Homo sapiens: one gene and its partners. The protein of the gene in region 3 purifies or fractionates together with the protein of the main gene of each other region. This does not show direct contact. Each region holds a gene or a part of one and is shown on either strand. Other genes may lie near its edges. The genes, in order: USP33, SHCBP1 and ASIC5.

What was found.
Region 1: the proteins of ASIC5 (region 3) and USP33 purify together in Homo sapiens (affinity purification with mass spectrometry; one large-scale study listed by BioGRID and IntAct). This does not show direct contact.
Region 2: the proteins of ASIC5 (region 3) and SHCBP1 purify together in Homo sapiens (affinity purification with mass spectrometry; one large-scale study listed by BioGRID and IntAct). This does not show direct contact.

Annotation. Positions count from the first base shown.
Region 1 is NC_000001.11:77,749,700-77,753,352, forward strand, and holds part of USP33 (ubiquitin carboxyl-terminal hydrolase 33), read right to left. Parts: intron 1-3,653. UniProt on the Homo sapiens protein: Deubiquitinating enzyme involved in various processes such as centrosome duplication, cellular migration and beta-2 adrenergic receptor/ADRB2 recycling.
Region 2 is NC_000016.10:46,586,830-46,590,482, forward strand, and holds part of SHCBP1 (SHC SH2 domain-binding protein 1), read right to left. Parts: intron 1-3,653. UniProt on the Homo sapiens protein: May play a role in signaling pathways governing cellular proliferation, cell growth and differentiation. May be a component of a novel signaling pathway downstream of Shc. Acts as a positive regulator of FGF signaling in neural progenitor cells.
Region 3 is NC_000004.12:155,863,373-155,867,638, reverse strand, and holds the start of ASIC5 (bile acid-sensitive ion channel), read left to right. Parts: upstream 1-1,361; 5' UTR 1,362-1,412; coding exon 1,413-1,452; exon of another isoform or gene 1,453-3,884; coding exon 3,885-4,191; exon of another isoform or gene 4,192-4,266. UniProt on the Homo sapiens protein: Forms bile acid-gated sodium channels and may play a role in bile acid-dependent absorption and secretion by epithelial cells of the bile ducts. Displays high selectivity for sodium ions but can also permit the permeation of other cations.

The DNA of each region.
Region 1 (3,653 bases), on a different chromosome or scaffold from region 3:
CCCTAAAGATGAGTACTGAGCGCTTTGTTTACTGAAAGTATTTAAGCTATGTATTTTCCTCTAAAGTAAAAATTCTGCATTTGCCAATGAAATGTAGATGTTCTTCTCACTGCTTTTTAGGCAATACTATTTTGCCTCAGAGGAAAGAAATGGGATCAGAGGATTGAAAAGAAACTTCCAAGATAAATATTTTTTTCTAAAATCTCAAGCAAAAAATAAGATTAAAATAAATTCTCTCTGCTGATAGCTGAGATGAAAAAAAGAATAAAACATAAATACATTCTCTCTGCTCTGCTATTAATTTTGCATTATCTAAACAATTTAATAAGAATTGGCTGGGCAGGGCCAGGTGCGATGACTGTAATTCCAGAATTTTGGGAGGCCGAAGTAGGTGGATCACCTGAGTTCAGGAGTCTGAGACCAGCCTGGCCAACATGGCAAAACCCCTTCTTTACTAAAAATACAAAAATTAGCCGTGCATAGTGGTGGGTGCCTGTAATCCCAGCTACTCGGGAGGCTGAAGCAGGAGAATCACTTGAACCCAGGAGGCAGAGGTTGCAGTGAGCCGTGATCACGCCACTGCACACCAGCCTGGGCAACAGAGCAAGGCTCCATCTCCAAAAAAAGAAAGAAAGAAAGAATTGGCTGGGCAGCCACGCATGACAGCTCAGGTCTGTAATCCCAGCACTTTGGGAGGCCAAGGCGGGAAGATCATTTGAGCTGACGAGTTCAAGACCAGCCTGGGCAACATGGTGAAACCCCATCTCTCTACAGAAAATAGAAAAATCAGCCCAGCGTGGTGGTGCACACCTGTAGTTCCACTGAGGCAGGAGAATCCCTTGAGCCCAGGAGGCAAAGGTTGCAGTGAGCCAAGATTGCACCACTGCACTCCAGCCTGTGCAACACAGCAAGACCCTGACTTAAAAAAGAAAGAAAGAAAGAAAGAAAGAAAGAAAGAAAGAAAGAAAGAAAGAAAGAAAGAAAGAAAAAGGAAAAGAATTAGTGCATGTAAACAAAGGCTAACAATTTGTCCCAAGGATATTTAGTATCCCGTATAATACAATGCTATCAAAATAGAAAACCCTTAGTATTTTCTTTGCCTAGTTTTACTCAGTTTATTTACTAAGGTAATAAAATCATTCTTTTATTCCTTTATTTGACAAATGTTTATTGAGGGTAGGGCATTCAGATATAGTAGGGTAAGACAATGGGAGTTCTTAGCTACTTCAATTTCTTCTCAAATTGTACACCAAAAGAAAGAAGGCATGTATGCTTCCATTCTTGTCTGATAATTTAATCACAGGAGATGAGTATTAGACATTAGAAAAAAACAGAAAATGGTTGTATATGGAAATGCTATTGTCCAATCCACAGAAGTAGATTTTGCAAAACTAAGACTCCTGTAGAAGCTTGTGACTTACAAGTTGGAAATCACAAAGAGTGCACAAGATTTTATCTGTTTGTCCTTATCTTTGTAATCTTGTATCTGGCAGCTTTTTCCTCTATCTGCCACACTAACTGGACTACTGGAAGTTTTCTCACCAATAATGATGGCAGCAACACCAACTGAAAATTTTTCCAGATGAAAACGACTGCACTCACGCTCTATGATGTACAGCTCCGGTGGCTAAATTGCTCATCTGCATTAAAGTAAATGCAAAACTGCTTCTGGGCTGGGCATGGTGGCTCGCACCTGTAATCCCAGCACTTTAGGAGACTGAGGCGGGAGGACTGCTTGAACCCAGGAGTTCAAGACCAGCCTGGGCAACACGGCAATACCCTGTCTCTACCCCAAAAAAATACAAAAATTACCCAGGCCTGGTGGCATGCCCCTGCAGTCCCAGCTATTCAGGAGGCTGAGGTGGGAGGATCACCTGAGCCCAGGAGGCAGAAGTTGCATGCAGTGAGCTGTGATTGCACCACTGCACTCCCGCCTGAGTGACAGAGCTAGGCCTTGTCTCAAAAACAAAACAAAACTGCTTCTGAAGATATTACCTTTTTTTTTTTGAGACGGAGTCTTGCTCTGTCGCCCAGGCTTGAGTGCAGTGGCGCGATCTCAGCTCACTGCAAGCTCCACCTCCCGGGTTCACGCCATTCTCCTGCCTCAGCCTCCTGAGTAGCTGGGACTACAGGCACCCGCCATCACACCCAGCTAATTTTTTGTATTTCCAGTAGAGATGGGGTTTCACTGTGTTAGCCAGGATGGTCTCGATCTCTTGACCTCGTGATCCGCCCACCTCGGCCTCCCAAAGTGCTGGGATTACAGGCTTGAGCCACCGCGCCGCGCCCGAAGATATTACTTTTAAGGGGAGAATATTTTCGTAGTACAATCTCCAAATTCCAGGTTGAAATTCTGACCCCTTATCCTAATAGAAGATAATCAATCAGCTATTCAAATTTTAATATTAGGAAAAGTATAGGGAACCATGTTATTAGTACAATTTTTTTTTTTTTTGAGACAGAATTTCACTCTGTCGCCCAGGCTGGAGTGCAGTGGCGCAATCTCGGCTCACTTGCAACTTCTCCCTCCCAGGTTCAAGCAATTCTCATGCCTCAGTCACTTGAGTAGCTGGGATTACAAGCATGTGTCACCACATCCAGCTAAATTTTTGTATTTTTAGTAGAGACGGAGTTTCACCGTGTTACCCAGACTGGTCTCAAACTTCTGGCCTCAAGTGATCCACCCACCTCGGCCTCCCAAAGTGCTGGGATTACAGGAGTGAGCCACTGCGCCTGGCCTTAATATAATAATTACACATCAGGACATAGTTGGTAACCTAAGGAGCTTTTAATATTGAGAAACTGCCTGAATTCCATTGCCTAGTCTATTCCAAAAAGTAAAGCTCTTCATAAAAAGTCAGATTCACATTACAGAGAAAAAAAATTATGTCAGAAGGATTGGTAGCTATTTAATAGTTACATATAAGATTAATATGAATGCAGGAGGTCTTCACTAGCAGGTGTCAGAACTGCTCAATATTTTTAACAATAACCTGGATAAAGCTACAGAAGGCAGGCTAGTAAAATATAAACTTAAAATTATAAAAATAAGTTTTTAAAGAAAAATTAAACTATTTTTTAAAATAAGCTAAAATTGGCTGGGCGTGGTGGCTCACACCTGTAATCCCAGCACTTTGCGAGGCCGAGGCCGGTGGATCACCTGAGGTCAGGAGTTCATTACCAGCCTAGCCAACATGGTGAAACCCTGTCTCTACTAAAAACACAAAAAATTAGCAGGGCGTGGTGGTGTGCGTCTGTAGTCCTAGCTAGCTGGGAGGCTGAGGCATGGGAATTGCTGGAACCCGCGAAGAGGAGGTCGAAGTGAGCCAAGATCATGCCACTGCACTCCAGTCTGGGTGACAAGAGCAAAACTCCATCTCAAAAAATAAAAAATAAAAAAAATTAGCTAAAATTAACAGGACGAAATTTAATAATGATGGATGTGATATTCGACATTGGGATTCAAAGAATCAACCATATAAACTGAGACCAAAAAAGGGGGTCAGGTATTTGGATTCTAGACCCTTGAAGAAGTAGCAATTCCTACTCAATTAATCAACAGAACACTAGGTTTCAAGGTTTCAGAATAAAAAGAGTAACCAGTCTTGCTGGGTATGGTGGCTCACACCTGTAATCCCAGCACTCTGGGAGGC
Region 2 (3,653 bases), on a different chromosome or scaffold from region 3:
CAGAATCCTATAACCAGTGAAAATATTCTTCAGGAATGAGGAGGAAATCAAGATATTCTAAGAAGAAGGAAAAATAGGAAAATTTGTCACCAGCAGACGTATCTTCATAGAATGACTAAAGGAAGTTATCTAAACAAAAAAGAAATGATAAAAGAGAAGATCCTGGAACATCAAAAAGAAAAAAAAAGAACACAGTAAGCAAAGATATAGGTAAATACAATAAGCTTTCCTTCTCTTGAGTGTTCTAAATTATGTTTGACATTTGAAACAAAAATCATAAAATTCTCTAATATGGTTCTAGATGTACGTACATAAGGCAAATGTTTAAGACAATTATAAAAAGGAGATGGTAGAGAATAATAAAAGGAGGCAAGGTTTCTATACTTTACTTGAACTGGTGACACCAGTAAACTGTTATGTACATATAATATACAACCTAGGGCGACCACTAAAAAAGTTATATGAAGAGATATTCTCAAAAACAAATGAAATTCTGAAAAATGTTCAGCTATCCACAGGATGGCAGAAAAAAAGCAAATCAAGAAATGAAAAGCATAACAAACAGAAAACACGAAATAAACTAAAGATTTAATATCAATAATTAAATGTAAGTGGTCTAAATACAATTAAAAGACAAAGATTGCCAAAGTGGATTAAAAACATGACTCAACTATATGCTGTCTACAACTCACTTCAAACAGAATATAGGCAAGTTGAAATTAAAACAATAGAAAAAGACTATTCAACAAGAGCTAACTATCCTAAATATATATGGGTGCATATAACTATCCTAAATATATATGCACCCAATACAGGAGCACCGGATTCATAAAGCATGCCCTTAGAGACCTACAAAGAGACTTAGACTCCCACACAATAATAATGGGAGACTTTAACACCCCACTGTCAACATTAGACAGATCAACAAGACAGAAAGTTAACAAGGATACCCAGGAATTGAACTCAGCTCTGCACCAAGCGGACCTAATAGACATCTACAGAACTCTCCACCCCAAATCAACAAAATATACATTCTTCACAGCACCACATCACACTTATTCCAAAATTGACCACATAGTTGGAAGTAAAGCACTCCTCAGCAAATATAAAAGAACAGAAATTATAACAAACTGTCTCTCAGACCACAGTGCAATCAAACTAGAACTGAGGATTAAGAAACTCACTCAAAACAAAACTGCTCCACTACATGGACACTGAACAACCTGCTCCTGAATGACAACTGGGTACATAACGAAATGAAGGCACAAACAAAGATGTTCTTTGAAACCAACGAGAACAAAGACACAACATACCAGAATCTCTGGGACACATTTAAAGCAGTGTGTAGAAGGAAATTTATAGCACTAAATGCCCACAAGAGAAAGCAGGAAAGATCTAAAATTGACACCCTAACATCACAATTAAAAGAACTAGAGAAGCAAGAGAAAGCACATTCCAAAGCTAGCAGAAGGCAAGAAATCACTAAGATCAGAGAAGAACTGAAGGAAATAGAGACACAAAAAACCCTTCAAAAAATCAATGAATCCAGGAGTTGGTTTTCTGAAAAGATTAACAAAATTGACAGACCACTAGCAAGACTAATAAAGAAGAAAAAAGAGAGAAGAATCAAATAGATGCAATAAAAACTAATAAAGGGGATATCACCACCAATCCCACAGAAATACAAACTACCATCAGAGAACACTATAAACACCTCTATGCAAATAAACTAGAAAATCTAGAAGAAATGGATAAATTCCTCAACACATACACCCTCCCAAGACTAAACCAGGAAGAAGTTGAATCTCTGAATAGACCAGTAACAGGTTCGGAAATTGAGGCAATATTTAATAGCCTACCAATCAAAAAAAGTCTAGGACCAGACGGATTCACAGCCGAATTCTACCAGAGGTACAAAGAGGAGCTGGTACCATTCCTTCTGAAACTATTCCAATCAATAGAAAAAGAGGGAATCCTCCCTAACTCATTTTATGAGGCCAGCATCATCCTGATACCAAAGCCTGGCAGAGACACAACAAAAAAAGAGAATTTAGACCAATATGCCTGATGAACATCGATGCAAAAATCCTCAATAAAATACTGGCAAACCGAATCCAGCAGCACATCAAAAAGCTTATCCACCATGATCAAGTTGGCTTCATCCCTGGGATGCAAGGCTGGTTCAACATATGCAAATCAATAAACGTAATCCATCATATAAACAGAACCAAAGACAAAAACCACATGATTATCTCAATAGATGCAGAAAAGGCCTTCAACAAAATTCAACAGCGTCTCATGCTAAAAACTCTCAATAAACTAGGTATTGATGGGATGTATCTCAAAATAATAAGAGCTGTTTATGACAAACCCACAGCCAATATCATAATCAATGGGCAAAAACTGGAAGCATTCCCTTTGAAAACTGTCACACAAGACAGGGATGCCCTCTCTCACCACTCCTATTCAACATAGTGTTGGAAGTTCTGGCCAGGGCAATCAGGCAGGAGAAAGAAATAAAGGGTATTGAATTAGGAAAAGAGGAAGTCAAATTGTCCCTGTTTGCAGATGACATGATTGCATATCTAGAAAACCCCATCGTCTCAGCCCAATATCTCCTTAAGCTGATAAGCAACTTCAGCAAAGTCTCAGGATACAAAATCAATGTGCAAAAATCACAAGCATTCCTATACACCAATAACAGATAAACAGAGAGTCAAATCATAAGTGAACTCCCATTCAAAATTGCTTCAAAGAGAATAAAATACTTAGGAATCCAACTTATAAGGGATGTGAAGGACCTCTTCAAGGAGAACTACAAACCACTGCTCAATGAAATAAAAGAGGACACAAATGGAAGAACATTCCATGCTCATGGATAGGAAGAATCAATATCATGAAAATGGCCATACTGCCCAAGGTAATTTATAGATTCAATGCCATCCCCATCAAGCTACCAAGGACTTTCTTCACAGAATTGGAAAAACTACTTTAAAGTTCATATGGAACCAAAAAAGAGCCCACATCGCCAAGACAATCCTAAGCCAAAAGAACAAAGCTGGAGGCATCACGCTACCTGACTTCAAACTATACTACAAGACTACAGTAACCAAAACAGCATGGTACTGGTACCAAAACAGAGATATAGACCAATGGAACAGAACAGAGCCCTCAGAAATAATACCACACATCTACAACCATCTGATCTTTGACAAACCTGACAAAAACAAGAAATGGGGAAAGGATTCCCTATTTAATAAATGGTGCTGGGAAAACTGGCTAGTCATATGTAGAAAGCTGAAACTGGATCCCTTCCTTACACCTTACAAAAATTAATTCAAGATGGATTAAAGACTTAAATGTTAGACCTAAAACCATTAAAACCCTAGAAGAAAATCTAGGCAATACCATTCAGGACATACGCATGGCAGGACTTCATGACTAAAACACCAAAAGCAATGGCAACAAAAGCCAAAATTGACAAATGGGATCTAGTTAAACTAAAGAGCTTCTGCACAGCAGAACAAACTACCATCAGAGTGAACAGGCAACCTACAGAATGCAAGAAAATTTTTACAATCTACCCATCTGACAGAGGGCTAATATCCAGAATCTACAAAGAACTTAAACAAATTTACAAGAAAAAATCAAAC
Region 3 (4,266 bases):
AACAATGTGAAGACATGAGATTTGGCAGGGGCTAGGGGCAGAATGAAATGATTTGACTGTGTCCCCACCCAAATCTCATCTTTAATTATAGCTTCCATAATTCCCATGTTCTGTGGGAGGGACCCTGTGAGAGTTAATTGAATCATGGAGGCGGGTCTTTCCCATGCTGTTCTCATGAGAGTGAAACAGTCTCAAGAGATCTGATAGTTTTATGAAGGGAAGTTCCCCTACACAAACTCTCTTGCCTGCCTCCATGTTAGATGTAACTTTGCTCCTCTTTCACCTTCCACCATGATTGCGTGGTCTTCCCAGCTATGTGAAACTGTGAGTCAATTAAACCTCTTTCTAAATTACCCAGTCTTGAATATGTCTTTATCAGCAGTGTGAGAACAGAATAATACATAATTTAACCCTAAAGAAGAGCTCTTTAATGGAGAAATTCATATATCATGAAATTTATCCTATTCCTGAAATCTTTACTGTGATAACTGAGGACCTCTAGCCAGATTCCTTACTTACATCACTTGGAATTAGTTTGCCTCCGTATAAGACTAGTTTGAACTTATAGTGCTGAGTTTACAAGTTTCCAAATATATGCAAAATATACGTAATCATACTGATGATTAATGGTGAGATGCTTATAAAATGGTGAGTCTAACAAGCTCTATTAGGTACAGATACATGCAATCACTGAATTCTGTCAAGAGATGATGCCCTTTATGCACAATAATGCACATTCTTCCATTTATTATTCAATATAATAAATTCTAACAATTTTCCAAAAGTGTTCATATAAAAAATAATCAGACTTTATGTTTTAGTAAGTTGTTTGTTTTCAGTAATCATTTATTCTTGAGCAGATATTTTTTGGTGTTTTATTTTGTCATGTTTATTGGCTATTATTTCTGTTAGAAACAGCTTCTGTTACTAAGAAAGAAACACCGACAAGGGAAGACACCTTTCCCATAAAAAAAAATTTATTCCAGCTGCGTTTTGATTTGAAGTTGAATAAAGACAAAGGTAAAAAGAAAAGCTAAGAAGACGTTCCCGGGTGAGTCATTGGAGTGTCAACTAGCCTGGTCAGGGGCTGCTGCTTAACTACACATATTTGATAGGAAGTGTCCCTTTAACTGTGAGAAAATGGTTTCCTAATGATACTTTTTGCTTTTCACTCATGAAATCACTCTGGGTTAGCTTCTCATCAGTCCATAAATGCCCATACCTGGTTCTGTCAACATTTTTGGTTTTCAGATTATGTGCTTTATGAGGCAAAACATAGCAACACAAACATTTAAATTGCTTCCATGTTTTACAACCTCAACTGCTGTATTTTATATAAAGGGCACAAAATGAATACTGTTATTGATGAAAATTGGGTTACCCTGAGGACTCTTGCTTAACTGAAATCACAAATGGAGCAGACAGAAAAATCAAAAGTATATGCTGAGAACGGTGAGTAAAGAGTGAACTCCTCAGAGCAGTAATATTTTTCATTTCTAGAGGCCAGAAGTAAGAAAAGAGAGATTTTTTTTCTTCATTTGGGAAATTTGATTTCCAATGTTACTTGAACACAATATAAGTAATATAAGTTTTAAAAATGAATAGTTTTACTTAGAAAAAAAGTTATTTGTATGAGGGACTCAAAAATAGTTTTAAAATATTACTATATGCCAGAATCTGATTTTGTTTCTTTGTTTTGTTTTATTTCTTTTGGTTTCTATTTATCCTGGGCCTGCAGGTTTTATTTTTTAAATGTAACAAAGCTGATTTGATGTTCCTCAAAATGCTTCTATGTTGATCAGCACTCAATGCAAGGTCTAGTTGTCATAATGACACTGTATATACTCCAGTCAGGAGAGTAAGAAGTTTCTGCTTTGCAAACTAGTGGGCCATTTATTCAACCAATTTTAATCTTCCTGACAGTCATACATTTACCTAAAACAATAATAAAAAAAACTCTATTAAAACACTAGAAAATAGTTGGTATTACTCCAGAAAGGCCAAACCAATTGTCAAGGATTAGATGTATATTAAATGGGCTGATTTTTGACAGGCAAACTTGAAAGTTAAATGTTTTGGGGTAATGCTTGCAACTAGCCACACTTTGCTTGTCAGTAACTAGTTACTACATTAGTCTTCCCCTTCTAATAGTTTTGATCCCTATTCTAGGAATGGTACAAGTTATCCAGAGACTGAGTTGTTCTTTTATCAGAGTAAATTCTTCGCATATGTTTGCAAGTCATGACTAAAGAATACACAAAAGAGCATATTTAAATATATTTTGCTAATTAGTAACAATAACTTTTTTCTTGTTTCTGATTTTTCTCTGGGATTATGCCAGTTACTTGATACATGTTCATTAATTTTATACTAAAAACAACATTAATAACGGTGCTATTCTAAGATTTTAGTCCAACTTCAAGCTAATCATATTAATACAAGCTATCCTGCTTAGTGAATAATAATCATAATATAATTTGTAAAATAATAATAATATAATTTGTAAGTGAATGAAATGGACTCCCTTAGAAAATGTTAATAGACACCTTTTTATAGCATATGTCCTATAACTGAATAAAAAGCTTAGCTAATTGATTGGTTATTTATGTTGTATTAAATAATGATTTAATAGTAAATGAAGCTTGAAACATCTTGTAAGTAAATTAATGCTGGATAGTTGAATACCTATATTCCAAAAGTATTATTTTGGCAAAGGATATAAAAGTTAATTCACCTAATTATGAACATATATAAAGCCATTAAGAACTAATTTTTTAAGATACTTTTAAAGCTTTTTAAAATTCCTGAATATTTTACTATTTACCACATCACCACTACATTAGCAGAATAATAAAAATAGCTAATACCCTTGAGTACTTATTATGATCTAGATAATGTGCTAAGCTCTCTCCAGGTATTATCAACAAATTTAATACAACAAATTCATAAGGCAGATACCATTGCTGCCATTTGACAGAAAAGGTATAAGACTAAGAAACTTGGCTAAAGTTGTGCAGGTTATAAGAGGCGAGGAATGGACCGGAAGCCTGATCTTCCATTGTGAAGCCCATCTCATGCTCTTAACTATATTGAACCTTTCCCTCCACAAAGGGATTCATTGCCTCTTCTCCTATGAACAAATGGAAAGAAATTTAACCAAAATAAAATTGTCAACATATCATATATTGCCAAAAAAATTTAGTGTTACCTTCCCTGGTTCTTACCAATGAATATCAATAAATATTATTGATTGATTCCTGATAGACTTGAAATGATGAATTAATTCCATGAAGAGGTAGAAAATAGATTACTTAACTAATACTACAACTGAACACTGAACATTCTGACTAAACAACCAACAAAATATAAAATAGTTGTACATTAAAGAATACGAGAATGAAAGTTACATTTACCATAAATTATACCACCATAGGACAAACATTAGTTAAGAACAGATTACTTTTAGCCATACTTAGGACTGTCAGAGGAATCAGCCTCATTTTGTTCATGACTTCTAAAGGACTTTCAGAGAGAAAGAGCATTTTAAAAATAAGAGTTAATATTTAAAGTTTATGAATTGTTGTAACCAACTTGGTTTTAAAGCTGGAAGTCACCTATTAATACCATACCACTAACACATTTACATTAATAATAGCCGTTCTATGAATAGCATTAGCATCTTCTCAATAAACCCATGTAGCCAACACTTACACTTCTTGATTCCTGAATAAATCATGCAACAAAAGATGAATTTTTAGTTTCTATGAATTACAAGTAAAAAGAGTCACCTCTTTAAATTATGTGAGTTGTGTTTTTTTACGGATAGCATTAAGGTTTCCTAATTACTTTTTTTTGTTTAATCATTTTATGGGCAAAACCTTAAGGACTCTTAGAAAAGATAAAGCTTTGCCTTTCAAAGAAACCACTGCCATCTCCCACTGAGCGAAAGAAGTTTGACCATGACTTTGCCATCTCCACTTCCTTTCATGGGATACACAATATTGTTCAGAACCGGAGCAAAATTCGCAGGGTGCTCTGGTTGGTGGTGGTTCTGGGCTCAGTCTCACTTGTGACATGGCAGATCTACATTCGCTTGCTCAACTACTTCACATGGCCAACCACAACGTCCATTGAGGTTCAATATGTGGAAAAGATGGAGTTCCCAGCTGTGACATTTTGTAATTTGAACAGGTAAAAATTACTTTTTTAAAAATAATTAGTTCCTATAAATTTGCTAGTATAATCTTTCTTGGATGACTGACAAAG